7 linked regions of the Homo sapiens genome follow. The protein of the gene in region 4 purifies or fractionates together with the protein of the main gene of each other region. This does not show direct contact. Each region holds a gene or a part of one and is shown on either strand. Other genes may lie near its edges.

The links.
Region 1: the proteins of ZMYND11 (region 4) and SMARCA5 purify together in Homo sapiens (affinity purification with mass spectrometry, with the first as the bait; one large-scale study listed by BioGRID). This does not show direct contact.
Region 2: the proteins of ZMYND11 (region 4) and GOT2 purify together in Homo sapiens (affinity purification with mass spectrometry; one large-scale study listed by BioGRID and IntAct). This does not show direct contact.
Region 3: the proteins of ZMYND11 (region 4) and TOP2B purify together in Homo sapiens (affinity purification with mass spectrometry, with the first as the bait; one large-scale study listed by BioGRID). This does not show direct contact.
Region 5: the proteins of ZMYND11 (region 4) and AKAP8 purify together in Homo sapiens (affinity purification with mass spectrometry, with the first as the bait; one large-scale study listed by BioGRID). This does not show direct contact.
Region 6: the proteins of ZMYND11 (region 4) and SRRM1 purify together in Homo sapiens (affinity purification with mass spectrometry, with the first as the bait; one large-scale study listed by BioGRID). This does not show direct contact.
Region 7: the proteins of ZMYND11 (region 4) and DCAF13 purify together in Homo sapiens (affinity purification with mass spectrometry; one large-scale study listed by BioGRID and IntAct). This does not show direct contact.

The regions. Positions count from the first base shown.
Region 1 is NC_000004.12:143,548,202-143,551,701, reverse strand, and holds part of SMARCA5 (SWI/SNF-related matrix-associated actin-dependent regulator of chromatin subfamily A member 5), read right to left. Parts: intron 1,706-3,500; coding exon 1,598-1,705; intron 1-1,597. UniProt on the Homo sapiens protein: ATPase that possesses intrinsic ATP-dependent nucleosome-remodeling activity.
Region 2 is NC_000016.10:58,717,317-58,720,816, reverse strand, and holds part of GOT2 (aspartate aminotransferase, mitochondrial isoform 1 precursor), read left to right. Parts: intron 1-1,561; coding exon 1,562-1,621; intron 1,622-2,128; coding exon 2,129-2,290; intron 2,291-2,516; coding exon 2,517-2,621; intron 2,622-3,500. UniProt on the Homo sapiens protein: Catalyzes the irreversible transamination of the L-tryptophan metabolite L-kynurenine to form kynurenic acid (KA). As a member of the malate-aspartate shuttle, it has a key role in the intracellular NAD(H) redox balance.
Region 3 is NC_000003.12:25,598,908-25,602,407, forward strand, and holds part of TOP2B (DNA topoisomerase 2-beta), read right to left. Parts: intron 2,319-3,500; coding exon 2,193-2,318; intron 623-2,192; coding exon 528-622; intron 1-527. UniProt on the Homo sapiens protein: Key decatenating enzyme that alters DNA topology by binding to two double-stranded DNA molecules, generating a double-stranded break in one of the strands, passing the intact strand through the broken strand, and religating the broken strand.
Region 4 is NC_000010.11:246,955-250,454, reverse strand, and holds part of ZMYND11 (zinc finger MYND domain-containing protein 11), read right to left. Parts: coding exon 3,482-3,500; intron 3,058-3,481; coding exon 2,989-3,057; intron 2,120-2,988; coding exon 1,847-2,119; intron 1,644-1,846; exon of another isoform or gene 1,553-1,643; coding exon 1,367-1,552; coding exon of another isoform or gene 1,346-1,366; exon of another isoform or gene 665-1,345; intron 1-664. UniProt on the Homo sapiens protein: Chromatin reader that specifically recognizes and binds histone H3.3 trimethylated at 'Lys-36' (H3.3K36me3) and regulates RNA polymerase II elongation. Does not bind other histone H3 subtypes (H3.1 or H3.2).
Region 5 is NC_000019.10:15,366,288-15,369,787, forward strand, and holds part of AKAP8 (A-kinase anchor protein 8), read right to left. Parts: intron 2,036-3,500; coding exon 1,948-2,035; intron 1-1,947. UniProt on the Homo sapiens protein: Anchoring protein that mediates the subcellular compartmentation of cAMP-dependent protein kinase (PKA type II).
Region 6 is NC_000001.11:24,653,302-24,656,801, reverse strand, and holds part of SRRM1 (serine/arginine repetitive matrix protein 1), read right to left. Parts: intron 2,497-3,500; coding exon of another isoform or gene 2,459-2,496; intron 1,948-2,458; coding exon 1,673-1,947; intron 1,151-1,672; coding exon of another isoform or gene 1,139-1,150; exon of another isoform or gene 1,112-1,138; intron 1-1,111. UniProt on the Homo sapiens protein: Part of pre- and post-splicing multiprotein mRNP complexes. As a component of the minor spliceosome, involved in the splicing of U12-type introns in pre-mRNAs. Involved in numerous pre-mRNA processing events.
Region 7 is NC_000008.11:103,425,386-103,428,885, reverse strand, and holds part of DCAF13 (DDB1- and CUL4-associated factor 13), read right to left. Parts: intron 2,831-3,500; coding exon 2,741-2,830; intron 1,790-2,740; coding exon 1,634-1,789; intron 1-1,633. UniProt on the Homo sapiens protein: Part of the small subunit (SSU) processome, first precursor of the small eukaryotic ribosomal subunit.

The sequences.
Region 1 (3,500 bases), on a different chromosome or scaffold from region 4:
GGAACTCATTTTTGACAAAGCTACCAAGAACATACACTGGAGAAAGGACAGTCTCTTCAATAAATGGTAATGGGAAAATTGGATATCCATACACAGAAGAATGAAACTTGACCTGTATCCCTAACTATATAAAAAAATCAAATCAAAATGTATTAAAGACTTTAAGTCCTCAAACTGTGAAACTACAAGAAAACATTGGGAAAACTCTCCAGAACACTGGACTGGGCAAAGATTTCTTGAATAATACCCCACAGGCAACCAAAGCAAAAATGGACAAATGGGATCACATTAAGTTAAAAAGCTTCTGCACAGCAGAGGAAACAGCAAAGTGAAGAGACATCCCACAGAATGGAAGAAAATATTTGCAAACTACCCATTTGTCAAAGGATTAATAAATAACCAGAATATGTAAGAGCTCAAACAACTCTACTGAAAAAAATCCTAACAGTCCGATTTAAAAATAGGCAAAAGATCTGAACAGATGATTCTCAAAGGAAGACATACAAATGGCAAACAAGCATATTAAAAGCTGTTCAGTATCACTGATCATCAGAGAAATGCAATCAAAACTACAATGAGATAACATCTCATCCCAGATAAAATGGCTTTTATCCAAAAGTCAGGCAATAACAAATCCTGACAAGAATGTGGAGAAAAGGAAACCCTCATACACTTTTGGTGGGAACGCAAATTAGTACAATCACTGTGGAAGCAGTTTGAAGGTTCCTCAAAAAACTACAGATAAGAGTTACCCTACTCCTAGGTTTACACCCAAAAGAAAGTCAGTATATCAAAGAGATATGTGCACTCCCATGTTTACTGCAGCACTATTCACAGTAGCCATGATTTGGAAGCAACCTAAGTGTCCATCAACAGATAAATGGATAAAGAAAACATGGTATGTATACACAATAGAATACTATTCAACCATAAGCAATGAGACCCTGTAATTTGCAGCAACATGGATGGAACTGGAGTTTATTAAGTGAAATAAGCCAGACACAGAAAGACAAACTTGGCATGTTCTCACTTATTTGTGGGAGCTAAAAACTACAATTAAACTCATGGAGACAGAGAGAAGGATGGATACCAGAGGCTGAGAAAGGCAGTGGGGGTGGGGGAAAGTGGGGCTGGCTAATGGATACAAATAAATACAAAGAGAGACTAAGACCCAGTATTTGATAGCCCAACACAGTGACTACCGCAATAAATAATTTAATTATACATTTTAAAATAACTAAGAGTTAAACTGTTTGTAACAGGGATAAATGCTGGAGGTGATAAATACCCCATTTACCCTGATGTCCTTATTACTTATTGCATGCCTGTATCAAAGTATCTCATGTAACCTATAAATACATACTTACTCATAACAACTAAAAATTAAAAATTATACCACTACCTAAATTTGAAAGTGGAAGAATCTCAAATTATGAGCTTGGGTTCTCCCTTAAGGAAAAAAAAAAAAAAAAAAAAGTAAAGGCAATGGAGGGGTGCACAACAGGGACTAACACATCAATGACAGCCAAGCAGTGTTAAATACTTAGAAAGGGGAAATTTACATAATCCACATATTTACATATTCATGAATACTTACTGAAGGCTTTGGTCCTCGTTTCTTTTTCTCTGCCTTCTCCTTTTCTTCTAGTTCCATGTTTTCTCTTTCAATCAAAGTAATTAAGGTATTACATCTCCTCTGGAGCTCCTAAATTATAAACAAACATGGTACACGCACTTTCCATCCACAAGTTTCATGATTTCAATTTTAAAACAAGGTATGTTTTAATAGGATAATATATAAAACCACTAATACACCCCTGATTTAAAAAAAAAACAACTGATTTTCATATACAATTCATGCTATGAAGATTAAAGGCAAGATATTTGTAAATAATGTTTTTACTCCAATCTTTAAAGCCAAACTACTGTGTATTCTTCAAAAATTCTTCCTTCACTTAGGAATTAAAGCAATAAAAATGAACATATGCAATACTGCTACTTAGTGTGTATGTCTGAGAACTACTGTGCTACTTATATCCAAAACTTAAAAAGATTAATAGTGCACATATGTGAGGGTCAAAAACAACAAGAACTTTAACAGGTGTGTATAATCTTTCCCTTCAAAGTATCACTAGAATTATGGTAGTCAATCAATCACATGGCACCTTTCCCAATTTTGGAAAACCAGCCATGGAAGTCTACGATGAGTTCTACCTCATCTCTCTCTGGCAAACTGGACATACAGCCTCCAGAAAAGATTTAAAGTATAACATAGAAGTAGCAGTTAACCCTGAAAGAAACAGAAGTCCATCTGCACGGACGGCTGCTGGGTAGCAGCCCCCTTTCTTATAGAGCAAAATTATTTTTTTCTTATAGTAAGTGATACTACTACACACACAACTACAGTAAAATAATTTTAAAATACTACTGTATAGAATACACCACACAAGACTTAGAAATAGTATATAGAGATAGAAGAATACATTATCATTTTTTGTGCATCTTAACATGGAACATGTTAAGAAGTAACACAGTTTTAAATTACGGTACTGTACTAGTTAAATTAACATGGCACTGTCTTGTTACAATCACTATAAAATTATTCTTTATTAACTCTATAAATTGTTCCCACTTAAGAAGAAATAAGCTTTCAGCAACTGGATCTTTTCTCTAATTATATATTTATACAGTGTTTTATCTTCAAAGTATCTTCATGTATTTAAGTTTAGTACATTTCCCAAACTTGGGTATCACAAACAGTGATGTCTAGTGAAAAAAAATTTTCAGTGGTCAAACATGAAAATACTGCTTACTATCCACTGTCTTACAAAGTGACATTTTACTTTAAATATACAGAGAAATCTTACTATAAACAAACACAAAGATGTTTAAACTTTGCTTATCCCAGAATATCCCAAACTTAAGACTAAAGAACTTATTAGCATTATCCTCATCTGGCAGAAAACAAGTTGAAGCTCAAAGTTCAATGGTGGTGAAATAAGGAAGAAAAGGAGCAATCCATCAAAGTTAAACTTTTCTGAATTCAAATTTTAGGTTATTAGAAATGGGGCTATTTGGTCAGAAACTGTTAGTCAGATATTGGGAATAAAAACAAAACCTAGCACTAAATCAGTGCAAAAGTAGTGTTTCACTATAATAAGCCATCTTAAAATAATCCAGACTCTGGATGATTTATATTAAATAAATCAGAATGCTGATTCTGATGTGCAGATGCTTGAATGCAAGGACCATTTTTCTTTATAGAAATATGTTCATTTGAAAAACCAAAAAGTCGTAACACTCAGAAGTTGAAACTGATACTTCCTCCCACTTAGAACTTGAAAAGCTAGTCTTATCATATAGTGATATTTAAAGACGTAAGATACTAAAGGATAGGACCAATAAACTTGTAAGCTATCCCTGGTATTAGGTTTTATGATACTAACAATATTGTAACAAAAGTCTACTTCATAGATTTTTTTAAAGTCACCTTAAAGAAT
Region 2 (3,500 bases), on a different chromosome or scaffold from region 4:
GTCAGGAGTTCGAGACCAGCCTGACCAATATGGTGAGACCCGCCCCCCCGTCTCTACTAAAAATACAAAAATTAGCCAGGTGTGGTGGTGCACGCCTGTAGTCTCAGCTACTGGGGAGGCTGACATGGGAGGAATCCTGGAACCCAGAAGGTGGAGGTTGCAGTGAGCCAAGTTTATGCCATTGCATTCTAGCCTGGGTGACAGAGCACGAACCTATCTCAAAAAAAAAAAAAAAAAATTGTTGTGCCTTTGTGAATCGTAGTATCATCGGACCTACAGTGAGGTTTTTATTTCCATCATGCCAAAGCTTGCAGGACAAACTATTTAAAATAATTTTTTAGTTGGGTTTTTCCCTCTTTAATCTACTACCACCCCAGTCCAGAAAAATACATTTGTGCTTTGTAGAGCCTTGTACTTCTACAACACCTTTAAAAACAACAAACAAAAACCTCTTAAACCTATGGTAATTTCTTGTTTGTCCCTTAAAGTTGACCAATTTGAATAAGGAGATTCACCTTAGGCATCTTCCTATTACCCAAAACATGAATATTTTCAGATTATGAAAACACATAGAAGGGGACCTCTTAGAAAACCTTTATTTATTTATTTATTTAGAGATGGAATTTCGCTCTTGTTGCCCAGGCTGGAGTGCAATAGCACGATCTCAGCTCAACGCAACCTCCGCCTCCTGGGTTCAAGCAATTCTCCCGCCTCAGCCTTCCTGAGTAGCTGGGATTACAGGCATGCGCCAACACACCTGGCTAATTTTGTATTTTTAGTTGAGACAGGGTTTTTCCATGTTGGTCAGGCTGATCTCGAACTCCTGACCTCAGGTGATACGTCCACCTCGGCCTCCCAAAGTGCTGGGATTACAGGCATAAGCCACTGCGCCCGGCCAGAAAACCTTTAAAATGTTGTAATGTTATCCTTGTATACTTGTTGACTTGCTTTTCAAGGAACTTTGATGTTTAGAGAGTCATTCTACTTTGTATAATTCTAAAGTAATGTTTTAATGTAGTGACTGTTCTCAGTGTCTTTTTATTTTATTTATTTATTTTTTTTGAGACAGAGTCTCACTCTTTTGCCCATGCTAGAATGCAATGGCACAGTCTCGGCTCACTGCATCCTCCACTTCGCAGGTTCAAGCAATTCTCATGCCTCAGCCTTTCCAGTAGCTGGGATTACAGGCATGCGCCACCATGCCCAGCTAATTTTTGTTTTAGTAGAGACAGGGTCTCGCCATGTTGGCCAGGCTGGTCTCGAACTCCTGACCTCAGGTGATCCACCCGCCTTGGCCTCCTAAAGTTCTGGGATTACAGGCATGAGCCACCGCACCCAGCCTCTCAGTGTCTTTTTATATCTTTTATATAATTCACCCCTTTTTCATATTGAGGAGGAATTTTTGTGTTCTGAAAGTTTCCCGTGTAACATGAAATGATACTGACAGGCCATAAAGAATGAGCTTCTGAAGTATGAAAGGTCCTGGACAAAGCAGTGGCCCTGGGTCTGGGCCTGTATAGAGAGTGTTGCACATCACTGACCGTGGGTATCTCTCCTTCAGTTTGTCACTGTGCAGACCATTTCTGGAACTGGAGCCTTAAGGATCGGAGCCAGTTTTCTGGTGAGTCTGGAAGCTTCTTCAGGAAAGAATTATAAATTCCAGATGACAGGGCTTCCTGTTGTGTGTGTATTTGACTGTTGATGCAGAAGTAGATTTCTTCTTTCCGTGAAGTTTGCAGATGTCCTATTCTCATGAAAAAATGAAAGGACTTTGAAGAAATTACAGGAAAGATATATTAGTGATGATGATAAATTCAGTTCACTAGGAACTTACTATTTACTAGGGAGCTTTTGCATTTTAACTTGTTTAATCCCTATGAGAGAGGTACAATTAACCCCCTTTACAAGTGAAGAAAGCAAGACCCAGAAAGGTCCTTGGCTACATGGCCAGTATAACTGTCAGAGACTATTCCAACCCAGGCAGTCTTACTGCTGAGTCAATACTGCTTCTCAACCATAGAGAGAAACTGGGTTTCAGCAGAGAAAAATGTTCTCTCAATAAAACACATCAACATTTTTTTGCCTCTCCTTTGTTCATTTTTCTGTTTCCTTTCGTCCCATCTTTTAGCAAAGATTTTTTAAGTTCAGCCGAGATGTCTTTCTGCCCAAACCAACCTGGGGAAACCACACACCCATCTTCAGGGATGCTGGCATGCAGCTACAAGGTTATCGGTATTATGACCCCAAGACTTGCGGTTTTGACTTCACAGGCGCTGTGGAGGATATTTCAGTAAGTGTGGCTTTCAGGGTGAGAGAGGTGAATAAAACTCCTTGCTTGCGGACATTTGATGTCTCCCACCATGTCCCAATATCTGAGTTAAAATACTGGGGAAGAGCTGATTCCCAGGGTTCTGGTTACCTTTGTTACTTATCAAATGATGACGATCCTGTGGCATTTCAGATAAACCATTTCCTTTAAAGCTGCAAAGTCGTCTCTTGGCTGTTTTTCTCTTTAGAAAATACCAGAGCAGAGTGTTCTTCTTCTGCATGCCTGCGCCCACAATCCCACGGGAGTGGACCCGCGTCCGGAACAGTGGAAGGAAATAGCAACAGTGGTGAAGGTGAGGACGATGAACTCACTGGCGACAGTTCTGTGTTTAGTAACCAGCTTTGGAGGCTTAATTTGGCAATGTCTCAACAGAGAGTCTTAACCTCGAACCTGCGTGAAATGTCCACACAGGTGGATAAGCTGCCAGAAAAGGGCTCCCCATTTGCGTGATTAGCAGTTCTGGGATTGATGACGCATGAGTATTTGAAAGTAATTTTTTTTGGCTGGGCGCGGTGGCTCACGCCTGTAATCCCAGCACTTTGGGAGGTCGAGGCAGGTGGATCACCTGAGGTCAGTTCGAGACCAGCCTGGCCAACATGGTGAAACCCCGTCTCTACTAAAACTACAAAATTAGCTGGGCGTAGTGGCCCATGCCTGTAATCCTAGCTACTTGGGAGGCTGAGGCAGGAGAATCACTTGAACCCAGGAGGTGGAGATTGTGGTGAGCCGAGATTGTGCCACTGCACTCCAGCCTGGGCAACAAGAGCAAAACTCTGTCTCTAAAAAAGAAAAAAAGAAAATAATTTTTTTCCTCATCCTGGATGTAGGGAACTCTGATAAAACCTGTCCACTGGCCCCAGGATGTCTGCTGTTGATGCCTATATTCGCCCTGGTCAGTGGTTGCTTATTGATCTTTTTAAACACTTTTTCATGTCCTCTCCTTTGCAGCATTGCCATGATCACTCTCAAAGTGTAGCCAGCTGTCAGAGAAGACACTAGTCAAAATTCCTAGGGAGGAAAATGTTATTCCTGTTGTCTCATGTCCCTGTTTTCCCTTTTCACTCCTTTTCATTTCCCTTTCTTTTCTCTCTCTCTCTTTTTTTTTCTTTTGAGACAGAGTCTCACTCTGTCGCCTTAAGCCAGAACGCAGTGGCACAGTCACAGCTCACAG
Region 3 (3,500 bases), on a different chromosome or scaffold from region 4:
GGACCTGAGACATAGAAGATGACTGAATGGAAGAGGTCAATGTGGAAATCAACATAAAAAGGGATGCGGGGGAGCTGATGTCATTCATTTACCTAAAAGAAATAGTGTACTTCTGGAAAAGGGTCAGACTAATTGGAAAAATCAGCCACAGTCAAATGAATTCAATTAAAAAAAAAATCAAATTAGCCCTGGTCAAATAAATCCAAGTTAAAAGGAAACAGTCTTTAGTCTGAAAAATAATATTTTAGTCTGAAAGAGTCTAATATTTAGGTAGCATAACACTACTACAGTTCAGTGGATGAAATGGAAGGTTCTAAGTAGGTTAATTTATAGCACAGTTATTTAGGAAATAGTCCTGATTATATAAATTTATACTTGAATAATTTCTTAACCAAATACAAGCCCCATATTGATACGAGATGCTAGGTGGAAAGCTGTTCCAGGACTATAGTCATAAGCAAACTAAGTCACTTACAGATCTTTTTTTAAAAAGCCATGCACTAATATGCAATGATGTTCCCGGTTACCTTGCTTGTTGTTTTGGATGTTTTCCTGCCAGGGTTATAATCGCCTTCATTTTCAGAGCCAGATGCTTTCCTTTTCTTTGCCCCTCGGCCTTTACCTTAAAATGATACAAAAGGTTTTTTCTTCCGTGGTTAAGTGCAATATAAAAAGATAAATGCCACAACATTGTAGTTTATTTCTTTGGCATGCCCAATCAGTGGAGCATTGCAGTCCTGATCTCTTACTATGAGTGATTATAAACAATTTGGCAGTAGCATTTCAATTCTGGGGTTGACATGACCAAAGACTTTTTGACAAATACATTTAAACTAGTGGGAAAGTCCCAAAGACAAATTTTAATGATGAATCCCTTCATACATAAAACATTTGTATTTGCTATTTGGTCCTTGAGCCTGAAAAGGAAATATCTTGGAAGAGTACTTCTTAAATTACATGGGATTTAAATATTTTTTTTCATTTCTAATTTGTCATGGGCCAATACTTTTAAAAATACCATAGAACACAAATTACTAAAAAATGTAATCACATGCTGTTTTAGTAACACATTATTATAAAGGTCTAAATGTTTACTCCGTTTTACTTATCAAAGACTAGTAACAACCAATTGCATATCCCACATTAAGTGGCACCATATGAGAACCACCAGTATTAACTATAAAATGTCAAATACATATTCCTTCTCAGACCTAGACTCAGCACATGCAGCATTTTTTTTCACCTACCTAACCTCTTATTCTCATCATTGGAGGTGGAAGGAGAAAAGGTAATATTTAAGTAGGGGCCAGATGTTCTCCATCCCACAATGATGCCAATGAAATAAAACAACTAAATAGCAATTTTATATCTTTAAAATCCCTTGACAGCTAGACTGGACAAGTACGAAGATAGACTTAAATAATCTTGGGATGTCATATTTGATCAAATGAATCAGGGAAATAGCATTTTTGAATTTATAAAGGCTTTCAATCCTGCATATCTTGAGTACTACTTTCCCAGTCACTGTGATTCTTTTCCACCCTATTATCCCCATTTCCCTGTAGGTCTACAGCTCCTTATCCCAACCACTCCTTAAAGAAATATAAGAAACACACTGAGGAAGATATCCTTCAGTTGAATAAAAGGTAGAGCAGCTACCCTCACAGCATGAGCTACCCTCATATCATGTCTTACAAACATATTTTACAAAACATCTTCAAGGGCTTTCCAGATTCTGGAGTTAAAGAGGGGATGCCATGGAGAACTGGTGCTGTTCCTTGTGTGGCCCTGAATACAGTTATTTCTTAGGTGAGAAAAAAAGTTCTAGCCTAAGAGTCCTGGATCTAGCCCATTACTATAAGTGTCACAGTTAGTGTGGAGTACTGATCTGACTTTTTAATAACAACTTTCAGTGAGTTGGCTGCAGGGGAGAATTTGGACCATTCTTAGGGATTCTTATTTAACCTCTTTGAGCCTCAATTTTTTAATTTGTAAAACAAAGTGACTGAACTAAATTGCTATGCCTCCTTTGGACTATATTCAGCACTGATTCCTAGACACACTGCTTACTGAGGAGTAAAGCAATTTAAAACAAAATAGATACCTAGCCTCTCTAAATTCAATGAGGTAGAAAAAATTCAATCTTTTCCACACAGCATATGTTTAAAGGGTTATAAGAAGATAATCCTCACCTTTTGGTGTTGTAGTCTTCTTTGGAATGCCAAATTCTGAATCCGAGTCAGAGTTTACAGCCTCTACTACTTTCTTCTGTTTTGGGGCTCTCTTGGGCTTAGGGACTGTATCTGAAGACGGTTTTCCTAGTAAGCAAATTTCCATTTCACAGGTCAATATACTTACCAACAAACCAAACTGAAGAGAGTCCTATATAAATGGAATTTCTTATAGCTGATTAGAAACTGAGTTGCCTGGCTGGGCGTGGTGGCTCACACCTGTAATGCCAGCACTCTGGGAGGCCAAGGCGGGGTGGATCACCTGAGGTCAGCAGTTCAAGACCAGCCTGGCCAATACGGTAAAACCCCATCTCTACTAAAAATAAAAAAATTAGCCAGGTGTGGTGGCAGATGCCTGTAATCCCAGCTACTTGGGAGGCTGAGGCAGGACAATCGCTTGAACCCGGGAGGTCGCAGTGAGCTGAGATTGCGCCACTGCACTCCAGTTGAGCAACAAGAGCAAAACTCTATCTTCAAAAAAAAAAATTGAGTCGCCTTAAATAATGAAATGGTTTCTCTCTGCTTGGCGGCAATGTAAAGGCAAACAATTTCTCATAGATGACAAAATGCTTTTTATTTAATTATGTATAATTTGCCCTTAGGTAATACAATTAAGACATTTTAAGGAAGAGCCATTAAAATAAATTAAGCAGTAACTTTTAAATACAGAATAGTCATGACAAAAGAGTAGCATATTTGATAAATTAATTATAACCCAGATATAACCACAGATTAAGTCCTAACTTTTAGAATGTTTTAGAGAAAAAAATGTATGGGATCCTCGAATACAATGAATAGAAACCAACTCACTTCCATTCAAAAGCTGAAATCCAGACTTGGCATTTTTATGTGGAAAGAAATATAAAATCCTAGATAAGTAGACAATTGATACCAGGCCTTTGCTTTCTGGAATTTTGAAAAATAGACCTTGTTTTACAGCTTTATCTGCAGTTCTATGTGAAAACTGATAAATAAGGCCAGTTGCAGTGGCTTACACCTGTAATCCCAGAACTTTGGGAGGCCAAGGCAGGCGGATCACTGGAGGTCAGGAGTTCGAGACCAGCCTGCCCAACATGGTGAAACCCCATCTCTACTAAAAATACAAAAAATTAGCCCAGTGAGGTGGCGTGTGCCTGTAGTCGCAGCTACTTGGGAGGATGAGGCAGAGGAATCGCTTGAACCCAGGCAAGGGAGGTTGCCGTGAGCCAAGATCACGCTACTCCACTCTAGCCTTGGTGACAGAGCAAGACTCTGTCTCAAAAAAAAAAA
Region 4 (3,500 bases):
GGTGCAATGACACCTCTCTGCAACCTTGCACTCCTGGGCTCAACCAATCCTTCCACCTTGGCCTCCCAAAGCACTGGGACTACGGGCATGAGCCACTGCACCTGGCGTCTTTGGGTGTTGTGCTTCTGTTATCTTCAGCACACCTTAATTCCCATCTAATGATATTGTGAGAGTTGATCACACAAATTCAGTCATTCTTGTCATACCCAACTAAAACTGAGTTGAGAAGCTGGGGGGAGAAGCACCTGGAACACAAAATGTTGGCTGCAGCTCTCAGACTAGTTTTGCCGACTGCCATCCCTCACCAGTCAGAGCTTGTCAGCTCCTCAAAACCTTACGAGCAGCAGTGAAATTTCTTAAAGAAGAACATGGAAAAGTTATTCGGAAAGCACGCTTTCACTTGTACTGAAGGCTATAACACCCAATGTGCAGGTTGTTTTTTTAACAGAAAATAAAGTTCTCTTTTTCCCTCCACAGATCTCCTGGTCTTTTGTTAACAATATTTATTTTGTTATTCACCAGCTCTTCCTACCAAGTTATCTTCATCTATTCGAAGTTTCCATTTTCCTTCTTGCCAAATCTTTGTCACAGATTTAAAAATATTTCTTTCATGAAAAGCTTATGTGTATTTATATAATATAGGCTTGATAAAATGAAGAATTAGTTTATCACAAAACTTTATATAGTCATTTATTAAAACTGAAACCAAGTTATGAGCTTTCGGGAGCAAAACTTTTCCCTAATTCACTGAGCACTGTGGCGGCTGTAGGACGAGCACTTGGACCCTGTGCACTCAGAAGCTCCCACTCTAGTGGGGAGGATGAGACTGGCGAGCAGGACACGATGACAAATGATACTAGTCAGGTATGAGGGAGGGTAGTTAGAGACCAATGAGATGTCACTACTATAAAGTAAAAGTAACTGATTTCTTTAACAAAATCTAATGTATAAATGTTAAGTGCAGGGAAATCTGAAACTATTTATTGTGATAATTACATTTATAATTTCACCATTTGGATGTTACCCATCTGAAATCACCAGGTAAAAGTCAGGGCCAGCCACTTTGCCCAAATAAAATATATGCATAGATGGAGAAATTATATAAGTTAATTGTAATAAATATGTACTAAGGTATTATAATCTCAATTTAACAAAATAATCCTGAGCAGTACACAGTAATATGGGATCTGGGGTTGAGAGATCATAGGACTTTTAATAAAATTTTTAAAACTAAAGCTGACCATTTCACATTTGATCTTATTTCAGAAACATCTTCTGCATGTGCCACAGCTACCTTCTGAATTAACGGGCATCATACCTGTGGTACATTTTCAGAAATAAGGGTCTAAAAAAGACTGGTATTTACCCACTGCTTCTTCTTGGTCTGAGAAATCAGTTGCTTGTGCTGTGTTGCCAGCTTCTTGATTTCTTCTACAAATTCTTCCTTACACTTTTCCTTTACTTGCTTACATTTTCTGTCCATCTCACCCTGCATGTTGGCTACAGCTTTATTTACAGCTTGTCTCTTTTCTTCTTCCATTTCAGAACGCAGCTGGAATGAAAAGACAACCCACAGTGCGTCAGCACACAACTTAACACAGACCATCTACACTGGAACAGAAACTTAACACAACTTGCATGAGGTACCTTTTTTCCCCTTCATTACATGTGTAAAAAATTTAGGTGAGGAAAGTATCATTATTACTTGAAATGCTGTAAAAGATACTGGTGTCATTATATGGCTACATGTAAAAGCTGCTACTGGGTTGATGCATGAGTGAAAGGAGCCTAACCATGACAGGAGTGCCGGCTGCAGCAGGGCACCCACAGTGGCGACAAGCATTACCTTCTCCAGAGCTTCTCGGACAACACGCTCTGTCTCCCGCTTGTGGTCCGACTTCATCCGGTCTTTGAAGTCATTGAAGATCTTGGTGTATTTGTCATGGCACATGCTCTGACACACGCCGTCGTTTGTGGTCTGGGTGCTCCGATGCAGCATTCTTGGTGAAGAGGCACTTAACTTCTTTGTCTGAGTTGACACGGAGACTTTTTCGATGGGCTGAGGCATCGTGGGTATTTCCTGGCTAGAACTTACTGCTTCTGTTTCAGGCTCTGGTTCCTAAAAGGTGAGACAAGAGTTTAGACGCCAAACGAAGCCACATAATTCACCAGTTCAAGAACTACCCCATTCGGATAAAAATTCAGTGATATACATAATAGCCATAGAATAAACTGCTGTTGAAAAATGTAGTTAGGGTGGTAGATGTCACGTATATTTTGCCACAATTTAAAAATAAACAAATCTCCCCCAATTAGTGAATGAAAAGAACATGCAATTAACAGCTACAATAATTATAAACATAAGCTTCATTTATAATTTTACTTATCAATACTATAAGTTTTGTTTTTAAAATAAACTAAACACAGAAATTTATAGAATATAAAAATTATTGTCAACTTATAATTACTTCATTGGACTAGATTCATTAACACATTTCCTCAAATCCTAAACCACTTCTCACTGAATATGTGTTTGAAATGTGCCCAGATTTACAGTTTTAAAACATGCAGGGCTTATATCACTTAAAACGGCTGAGCTCAACCACAGTCTCCTTCAAGTTTTTAAATGTTGGCACAACTGATATACTGGATAAATGTGTTGTTTTTAATCATACTTAGGAAAAATATCAGAGCTCCCAGGAAATGTATTAATAGCAATGTGCCCTTCCTACTTAGCCAAGCTTTGGTCAGCGGCTGCTTAATTAAGATGGAGACTTGGAGCATGTACGCTATTCCAGGGTAACAGATAATGACAGGGAAGTCAGAAGACTGGTTTCAACTTGATGGATATGATTTGACTGACAGCAGCTGAATTTCACAAGTATCCACCAAGAGTGACTGTCTTTGAAATACTTTGAAAATACAAAATACTTTGAAAATATTTCCTGTTTCATTTGCCACCTGGATACTGCGAGGTGGGCAACTTACTTCCTTTTTGGGCTCCACACTTTGATTACGTCGTCCTTTCTTTGCTCTTGGTTCTTGAGTGACCTTTAGCTGTGGGCATTATAAAAGTAATATATTATTCCAGACACTAGAAAATACTTCTCTGCTGAAAACACTCATAGTGGACCCACAGGTGAGAAGTGAATACATTTCTACCTTTTGCATCCTTCCATCCACTCAGTTACCACTGACTTAATTTACTGTTCTGGTAACTGTAGGCTTGAAAGAGCCAGCGCACCTTCAGAGAGGAGCACTTGTACTTAACTCTCTTGGTACTGGCAGGGTCAAGGTCATTGATTGTTACATCTATGTATTCATTTGAACTGCTTTTGGTTTAGTTTTGCAGAGCACTTTACAAATGTAAAAAAGGGAAGGAGAACGTCAAAATCTGTTCATTACAGTGAGGAGTGTGCACTAAGATTTCTGCATTTAAAAGTAATAATGAATAGGCACTTCCTTCCGGAGACACACTCACCTGCTCATTACTGGTGGAG
Region 5 (3,500 bases), on a different chromosome or scaffold from region 4:
TCTCTTTATTAGATTATTTAAGTTTAAAAATAATTAAAAAGAAAATGTCATCTCAGTTTCCATGTGACATGAAAAGTCATCTACTCTATCCATTTATCTGTTTAAAATAACAAGGGTTTCAATGTTCCTGTACCACTTAAGAAGAAACAGTTCTGCGTTTGGTTCCTGGCTTCGTTTTGCTAAGCATTTCTCTCTTTTTTTTTTGAATCCTTGATTTAAGGTTCACATGGAACAGTGATTTTCTTTTTTTTTTTTTGTTCCTGAGATGGAGTCTTGCTCCGTCGCCCACGCTGGAGTGCAGTAGCACAATCTCGGCTCACTGAGATGGAGTTTTTATTTGAGATAGAGTTTCGCTCTTGTTGCCCAGGCTGGAATGCAGTGGTGTGATCTTGGCTCACTGCAACCTCCACCTCCTGGGTTCAAGCAATTCTCCTGCCTCAGCCTCCCGAGCAGCGGGGAATACAGGCATGCGCCACCATGCCGGACGAATTTTGTATTTTTAGTAGAGACTGGGTTTCTCCATGTTGGTCAGGCTGGTCTCGAACTCCCAACCTCAGGTGATCCGCCTGCCTTGGCCTCCCAAAGTGGTGGGATTACAGGCGTGAGCCACTGCCCCCAGCCCGTTTCTTTTTCTTTTTGAGACAGAGTCTTGCTCTGTCGCCCAGGCTGGAGTGCAGTGGTGCAACCTTGGCTCACTACAAAGTCCACCTCCCCAGTTTAAGTGATTCTCCTGCCTCAGCCTCCCGAGTAGCTGAGATTACAGGCACCTGCCACCATGCCTGGCTAATTTTTGTAATTTTAGTAGAGATGGGTTTCACCATATTGACCAGGCTGGTCTTGAACTCCCGGCCTCAAGCGATCCGCCAGCTCAGCCTTCCAAAGTGCTGGAATTACATGTGTGAGCCACGGCATCTGGCCCCTTTTACTAAGCATTTCTTTGAACACGACAATCACTGCCCAGACTGGGCGCAGTGGCTCACGCTTGTAATACCAGCACTTTGGGAGGCCAAGGCGGGCAGATCACAAGATCAGGAGTTTAAGACCAGCCTTGCCAACACGGTGAATCCCGACCTCTACTAAAAATACAAAAATTAGCCAGGCGTGGTGTCAGGCGCCTGTAATCCCAGCTACTCGGGAGGCTGAGGCAGGAGAACCGCTTGAACCTAGGAGGCAGAGGTTATAGTGAGCCGAGATTATGCTATTGCACTCCAGCCTGGGCGACAGAGCAAGACTCCATCTCAGAAACAAACAAACAAAAAGAAAATCACTGTCCCATGTGAACCTTAAGGTCAAGGATTCCCCAGCATCACATGATCACTGGTGATTTCAGTTTCTAGTCAGAAGCCACTTAACTCCTGGCAGGGAGAGGCAGGCACATGGTGTGCTCACAATGACATCCTTTGGGCTCAACATTTTTGCAATCCTTTTCTATTGTGGGACAAAATCTTGATGGTAGGATCATCTCTCTACCTGTCTCCTAGCTGTGTCAAACTCCAGGGGTGGTCTGGATTTGGATAAGGTGAACACAGGACAGTGTCTGAGATGCCAGACACCAGGCTAGGGGGCAGGGATGCCCCTCAGGCCTGCAGGAGAGTAACAGAGCCCGCTGCTGAGCAGTTATGGACCACACAGACCCACCAGCAAGGCTGGGATTCCAGAGGAATAGAGACACAGGAGTCAAACACCAATCCTCTAAAGCAAGAACAGAAACCTAACCACCAAAGCAACGTCCCAGCCATCCTAGAAGACAGGTAGCTCGTGTGCTGGGAGCACGAGTGATGGTCTTTTCTGCACTCCCAATTGTTTACTGTTTTGCCTCCCACTGGTTTGGCCAGAGGAGTCAGGCCACCAGGCCCCCAGCATTGTGGAGCGAGGACAGGTGAGCTCGGCAGCGCCTCCACCGCACGAGTCCACCTCCTCCTGTGGGGTCGTGTGCCCGCGCCTCACCTGTCGGCTGCACGGTCCCGCGTCCTGTCTCTTCTCCTTTGCTTTTCCCTTCTCTTCTTCACATCCTCGTCCTCGTCCTCCTTCTCTCCTGTAACAGACAAGTCCCTTCGAGACGCTCTGAGTGGCCTGCAAAGGAGCTGAGCTCCAGGGCCTGGTCGGGGGGCTGCAGCTTGGCCACCGCACCCTGTGCCCTGCCACTGCCTGCACCACGCGGCAGGGTCCAGGATGCCCCAAGGCACTGTCAGAGACTCCTGGTGGACACGGGCCTGGAGTGAGAGCCCGGAGTAGTCACCAAACTCCCCACATGGCCTGAGGCGGCCAGGATGGGCTAGGGACACAGCCTGCCCACCCCATGTGCACCACAGCCCCCTGCTCCCTCTGTCCTCCCCATTCTGCTTGTCCAATCTCATGCCCTGCGATGGGGTCTTCTCCCAATATCACAGGAGAAGCCAATTCTCCCCGGATGAAGAGGCGGCAGCTGAAGGCCTCAGGAAGTGAAGCAGCTGCTCCGCCGCCCTCTATCCCACCTCTAGGTGGACTGTGACGAGCGTCCTGGCGGCCCCGTCTGAACTAGGGCCTCAGCAGGTCTGACAGTCCTTGCTGGCCCGACCTCTATCTTCCACTCACAAAAACCGTCAATCTAGGGCTTTCCCAGGGCTGCGTGGGAAGCAATCCTAGAAAAAAATTTGGGAAGAGACCAATTGGTCCTCCCGTCCGTCCCCCGGGGCCAGCAGAGGAGCTCCTCGGAGAGCCACGCGGCCATCATCCCAGCATGAGGCCAGGGACGGACGCTGAAAAAAGGTTGGAGAAGCATCTGAACTGTAACCCCTACCCCTGATGCCAGTCCCGAGACTGTCCCACGAAGATGGCGACCGGCGTGCGCTGCTCAGAAGCCTCTCAAAAGGGCGTGTGGGATTTTTGGCAAGAGGTCACTGCCTGAAACTATGACTGCTGTTTAATAGCAAAGTCATCCCGGGTAGGTAGCAGGACCTGCGCGCAACAGACATGTCACCTTTGCTTTAGCATTGTGCCGCTAAGCGCTCGGGGCGCCCCGTGCTATGGACAGGACTGCTGCGGGTCGCGGGGGGGAGGACCGCAGAGGGCTGGCAAAGCCTGAACAGGAGGAACATCTAAGCCAAGGGCCTTCAGAATGGATGGGAGCAGGGCCACTGAGGAGCCAGCCTATGATCCTTGGGGTAACCAGCTACGGAAAGACCCACAGGACAGGTAAAGAAACGAGTGGCTTCAGGGTGAGCTCCAGGCCGCGGCACCTCAGGCCGCTCTGCCATGAGGGATTTAAGCCTGCTCTGCTGTTGCTGCAGACCCTCTGGTCTCCTGCATTGGACATGAAGAGACCTGCTGAAGGGCGCCCGCCTCTCAAAGACCCAGTGGGCCTGGGTGCTCCCGACCCCGCAGGTGTCTGCTGTCACACACTCGCAGGCACGAAGCAATGTGCAGTGCAGCTGCCAGTATCCCCACCACAGAGGCCCACAGCACAGCCCAGGGCAGGCGACTGAAGGAACTGGACAAAAGGAAGCCCCAGAGAAAACACT
Region 6 (3,500 bases), on a different chromosome or scaffold from region 4:
TATTTTAACAAGGATTGGTCCCTCTGTTCAGGTACTTTTGCAACTCTTAGGCTATATGATATAAATAGAAAAAAATCATCACTTGATGTGTTTTTGCAAAGTAACAGGTAAAAACACTTGTTTTTTTCCCTGGAGAGCTTTGTGGCTCCAGACAAAGAATAAATATTCAGAAGTACAAACTTTACAGGAAAAGACAAAATAGGCCAGGGCCATGGGCATCAGATTTGGACATGGTAACTGAAAATGGACTGAAATTTTCCCAATGCTGAAAAGCAGTATGGTACATGAGGTTATGAAAACAGTGATCCCGAAGCCCCTCTCTCAAACTGAGGACTGAACCTGGAACAGTTACAGGCTTCTCTACTTTCACTAGCTGCTTCTCTAAGGGGCCAACAAAAGTGGCCATGTCTTATTTAATGAACCTATCACTACAATAAAAATGTCACAATTCAGAAAACATTACTTTTTACAGACTATCATAATCTGCTGGTCACCCTTTCACTCTGTCAGCTTATCTATGCCTCATTGTCACAGATACAAAAAAGGAAAGCAAAATTTGCCTTTCTAGGTATCACCACATTGCAGCCTTGGGGAGTGGGGAGATAAGGCAACAGGGTGAATAATTAGCAATGCTGGTCTCATCAAGCTCATTAAAATGTATAATGAAAATTTTGCCCATCCCCATTTCTTTGTTTCTAACCTGAAATTTTTTCTCTCTCTTTTTTTAAGAGTCAGGATCTCGCTATGGGGCTGAGGCCAGCCTTGAACTTCTGGGATCAAGTGATCTTCCTGCCTTAGCCTTCTGAGTAGCTGGGACCACAGGCTCATGCCACCACACCTGGCTCTAACCTGAAATTTTCAATATGATCATAATAACCCCAGCGTGTGTTAACCTACAGATTGCTCCTTAAAACTCAATTGCTTTAGCAGCTTTTAAGATCCTCCCCATCCCTTACTACTCACCTTTTAGGCTGTATATCATTCCAGCCCTAAGCTCCAGAGAGCCTGGTTCAAATGGACACTACAGTTTTTTCCATGCGTATTTAATGCTCACAGAACAAACCCCAATAGACCACAACCTTCACTCAGACTAACACAGCATTCTACTTGCCTGGCAGGTTCACAGATCATAAATTCCTCAGAAATCAATCTGCAGAATAAAGCAAGGACAACACTCAGAAGAACCCTGCCTAGAACCTAAATTAAAAAAACAAATCAGCTTTTAAGAGGACACCATGTCCTTTGCTTGGGAGCGCAATGCGACCAAGAAAGAACTAAAAGAGAATATGAAGTCCTCTTATTTAAGATATCAAACCAAAAATCTTCAGGAGAAAAAAAAGTTAACTGGTCTCATAGTAATAAAATGATCCCTTATCATGCCAACGCAAACTTTGATATGTTACCCCAACTCAAACAGCCCACGGCTGGTAAAAGATTTCTCCACCTGCGCAATGCCACAGGGCATTGCTAAAAACAAAACCCTTTTACACATAAAAAAGCCCCAAGATTTTAAAGCAGGAAAGAGGTAGGCTTATAAGTAAACCTACAGAGAGTATTAGATACAAATATTATCTAGCTATTTCATACTTTGAGAGTGAGCAGGGGGCAATAACTGACTACGCTTTGTAGCCAAAGAAAGAGAGACCATGTTTCATATGTGTTTGATTTTTACCTTTACCTGAAGTTCTCCCTGGAGACACAGAAACACGACTTTTTCTTGTACGGTTTGACTGCTGGGGTGTAGGGGAATGCCGAGTTTTGGGTGGTGGAGTTGCAGGAGGTGATGGCCTGTGCCTTCGCCTTGGAGGACTTGCTGAAGGAGATAACCTACGAGTTTTCCGAGGGGGGCTGGATGTCCTCTTGGGAGGCTTCTTTGGTGGTGACCGTGAACGAGATGAAGAGGATGATGAGCTACTCCCAGACAAGGATGCTGACGAACGTCTTCTTCTGTGGAATAAAGTATTCATATTCACTAATTGCACACTTATAAAGAACGGCCTTACAGGTATGAACAGTTTACACAAAAATACAGCTATTTTAATCCGACTTTTGAGTTTATGTAGCTAAGCACATAAATGAGTCCAAAAGAATGGGGGAAAAAACCATAACCTAGGCCAGGAAACAGCTAGTTCTGAGATTAATATAAACAACTTAATCTGATAAATACTTCTGTCTGTGTTCTCTCTCCAGTTATAAAACTTGTCAGGTTGAATGCTATAATAAAATAACTAACTAGTCCTTCTGCCTTAGGAATGGTATTGGTGTTTTGGAGTTTGCATATAAAATTTGGGGGCAAGGTATTTTCCATTTAATAACACAATGTTGAGAAACCTTTAGGTTGCATTTTTAAAAAAGATGTGCAAAACTAAGAATTCATTTAGCTACATAAACTTAGAAGCAGGGGCCTCTCGAATTCTGCGGCAAAATTTGTGTTAAGTTCTGTTGCAATTATGTGTACCTGCAGAATTCACCTTTGGCGGAAGAATTCCTGAGAACCTGAAAAAAAGAAACCCTACCTTAAGTGTGAGATAAAAACTGGCTGAAAGGGAATCTTAAACAATCTGTAAAATATTGACTGCTAAATGGCTGAGTAAGCACAATTTAAACATGCTGTTTGCAAAACTCCAGTATAAGAAATAGCTGTTTCCACTAATCTTGTACTAGGAAGCACCAGCATTACTTTTCTCCTAAAAGGGAATTAGAAAAGTGTGATGCCTGAAAATTGACTGACCATTTACCTCACTAATTTCCTCTATGAGCACAACACATCAATTCTTTGCAACAGTAGTAATAGTTCAATATATCTTAACAACCCCTCCCCAAAGAAAATTTTCAAAATATGGGACTCTGAAAAACCTGACTGCAGAAACAAAGTAACTTTACAGAGCTTACTTGATTTTTCCCCTCTTTATTTCCAAATTGATTTGGTTCCCTGAAAAGAACTTTAAAAGACTCAAACAAAAAATTCTGTCCAAAATAACTGGAAGCTTAATCATCGGCATTTCTTCCCAAGCCAGGTGAAACGTATTGCAAGAAGGCACAAAAACTGCTACCAGTGCACTAGGACTCTACTTTGGGTAGACTTAGCCACTAATTTTTGTTTAAAGTGATATATCCAAGATTCAAATATTTTATCTTATGCTCATTTTAGAATGATGTAAAAAAAAGAACACTGGTACAGTTGGGGTTTTGAAAAATAACCAGACACTAAACTAGTAATAGCAATTATATCTATGGAATATAGATATATTCCCCCACGGATTATGGAAAACTTCCAAGTTATGCTATTTCTGTCTGAATTACTTATAAGCTTCATTACTTCTATAATGAGAATTTTCTGAGAATTTTATAAAAAATTCATAAAAATACTTTTCTCAAAGTATAACAGCAAATGAATTACTTTAATACTGGTAAAAGGAGCTTACTGGCCCTATAATCAGCTACTTTTCAGAAGCCAGTTAAAAGCCAAAGAGAAGGTGGCCAATTCTCTTACTTAGTAT
Region 7 (3,500 bases), on a different chromosome or scaffold from region 4:
TATACAGGCAAGTTTGAAAAACATGGTCACTAGGTCATCCCTAATAATTACGATTTTAGAATTGGTGATCGGCTCTTCTGACACAGATGTTCACCAAAGCAGAGAAGCAAAAGATTTTTTTGTTCCTCTAAATAGTAAGAACCAGTGTCTGTTTAGGTTTTTTTGTGTTTTTTTTTTAGTACGTAATACCGTCACCATCTTGAATTTGGATAGCACTTTTAAAAAATGTTCACATATGTTATCAACTTTTACACTTGGTCCTGCTCTGCAAAGGTAGCTGCCTTTCCATGCCACTTCTCTCTTCTACAACCAAGGGAAACATAAGGAAGGAAGATGGAGGATGGAGTGAGAAAGATATAATAGAGACAGACACTCCAGACCAGGAATCAGAAAACTTTTTCTGTAAAGGGCCAGAGAGTAAGTATTTTAGGTTTTGTGGGCCATATGGTCTCTGTGGCAATTACTTAACTCTGCCATCATAGCACGAAAGCAGCTACAGACAATATGTACGCAAGAGAACATGGCTGTCTTCTAGCAGAGCTCTATTTACAAAAACAGGCAGTGGGCCACATGTGGCTCACAGACTAGTTTGCCAACCTATTCTAGACCTGTAGCGTCTCTAGAAAGTGTGTGTGTGAGCATGTGGTAGTTGCAGGAAGAGTGTCCTCTGACTTCTCAGTAATTCCTCAAGGCCAAGCTCACATCGCACTGCAGCATCTCATTTTCCAGTATATCATACAAACTATTTTTATACCTTACTATTTTGACTCAACCTTACTTCCTATCTTTTATCAGGTTGGGTCTTTAAGAGCATAACACTTGCATATTAGGATTTTTCTCTCATACTACCTAAAATGGTAGCCTCGCAATAACTGCTAAAATTGGCTTATATATGCTATGATTGCCTTTTCTTTCAACAGGAAAAACATATCCCTACTGAGTCTTCTGGACAATCAGTTCATCTATTGTTATGCATTAAGAAAAAGTTCAGAGAAAGATCTGGAGTCCAAGGGCTAGCTTAGCCTTCAGGACAGCCTCCATTCCTAAATTCAGACCTAAACAGACGACATGTAGTGGCCAATCTCCAACTCTTCCCTTAGGCCTGGAGGAACTGGGAATCACAATTCAGACTTCTGAGCAAAGAAAAATATAACTATAACTAATTACCATGCAGTTCAACAATAATCACAAATGTTTTTATGAAGCATTGGTACCTTACCAATTACAAATAGACAAAATGATGTCCAATGCTCCTTCTTCTGACCTCCAAGGCAGGTAGAAAAATTAACATTTTCCTAAATGTACAATGACATAATCTATGGAACATGAAGTTGAAGGCATGAGTAAAACTAAAGTTAAAACAAGACTATATTTACTTGGATTTTACCCCAATGGGCAAATGCACACACCACTCCTCTAACAATGCTTAACTCTAGTATCTGGGACTAAACTGCTGGGAAACATGTTGGGATTTGAGCAAAGGTATCAGAACTCATTTACAATCGGGAAAACTGACAAAATGCCAAAACACCATTAAAATTCAGAAGTTTCTATCATACATTCAAAAGTTTTCTAAACAGAACTGAAATTATTAAGCCATAATAAGTAAAACATACTTAAAAAAAAACATTACCTCAATTGGGTTAAATTTAACACTACTTATACTGTCAAATCCCCAGGTCATTGAACATATAGGATTAGTTCTTTGTTCATCCCAAATGTCTACTTGCTGTCCACATGTGGCAAAAACAGCTTCTTTCCAGTGATGATCAATCCCAGTATACACTGTCTTTAAAAGCAAAAAGGTTAAGAGGATTTTTTTCATTACTAATTCAAATCTGCAGAATAATATTTTAAATATATTTATCTATACTATCTTTTTAGAGAAAAGCCCTGTTCACAAAGAAACTTCTTTGAAGTCCTTACTTAAAGGGGGAAACAATACCATAATGAGACAAGACATTTTAAGAATGAAACCAATTTTGTTTTAGAAATTACTAACGTGTTTCCAACTACAAATTATCTCTACCTCATACTCATACCCCATTCCCCTATCCCTTTAAGAACATTTAGTCTTCTTGAAACCTAAAGCAGAACCTAAATATTATATACTAACCATAATATTGAAACGACAAAGTGATTTTTAAAAGGTAGATTTAATTTAAAGATTAAATCTAATTTTGGAATTGTTTGCTTAATATAAAAATGTAAACATTATAAAACATGGATAGACCAAATGTTCTAAATTATTCTTATGCTAAAACTAAACCACCCATCACCTGATTTGCAGAATAATTTGGTAGAAACATTAATAAGATTTATACATGATGCATAATACTATTAAATTTCTTCATTTCTTAAAGGAGTCTTTCAACTAAGAAATTCTGAGTTTTGTGTAAGATCTATGATGACATCAACTAGACAAGCTGAAGCATTTTCTGAACTTCTATCTTTTTCTCCGTGGTCTTCCCATGGGAAATGTTTCATTGTATCCTCTGGCTAAAAACAGAAATCAAACTCTACTACAATGAATACCAAAAAAAAAAAAAACTGTTAAAATTCTTTAGCATCAAAGGACTTTAGCTGCATTAAATATTGCGTAAATGGGTCAACAATTACAGCCTAAAGTCTTTCGTTTCTTATCTGCATCTTCTTCCCCATCTTAGGAAATTATAACTATAAAATAATTTTAAATAAAAGAATGTTAATAGGCAAGCTATTAGTCAATTTACTTTTGTACCTTTCCTAATATTGTATGTAATGGCTCTTCCTCGTCTCCATAGCCTGGCCCATCCATTTTCCACTGCTTCACAGTTTTGTCATCACCAACCTAGAAATATTTGTTTTATTATGATGATGGTAAGGAACAACAGTTATAAATTAAAACTTGCCAACACATATCAAATAAGTATCTTGTTTAAAACAGGTAACATACCATATCATTCCAGTATTACACTTATTGATCCATTTATATCCCACCTTGTTTTAGTAAAGATTTGTGACAAATACATAAAGTACATAAAACTAAAAATATAATGAGTAGAGCAAAAGAAAAACAAGAACAGGGGCAAAGTTAGGTCATGCATATTGTGATAAACATGGCATTTCAACTTGGAGAAAAAATGGATTATAAAAAATGGTATTATAATATCTGGTTAGTCATTCAAAAAAATTGAGCCAATTTGATGCCTTATGTGAAAATAAAATTCCAGGTAATTTTAAATGTAAAAAATAAAATGAAAAACATGAAAATACTGGAGAGAAGGCATTGTTATAATATTGAAATAGATAAAGTCCTTTTCTGCATGAACTGCAGAAACTACTAAGTCAGTGGTTTTCAAACTGTGAACTTTGGGCCTCTGGAGGACCCTGAGAACTTTTCAGGGTCCACACAGTCAAAACTATTTTCATAATGTTAGTAAAGACATAGTTTGTCTTTTCACTGTGCTGACAGCTGCACAAATAGTAAAAAAGCAACAGTGAGCAAAACTGTTGGCACG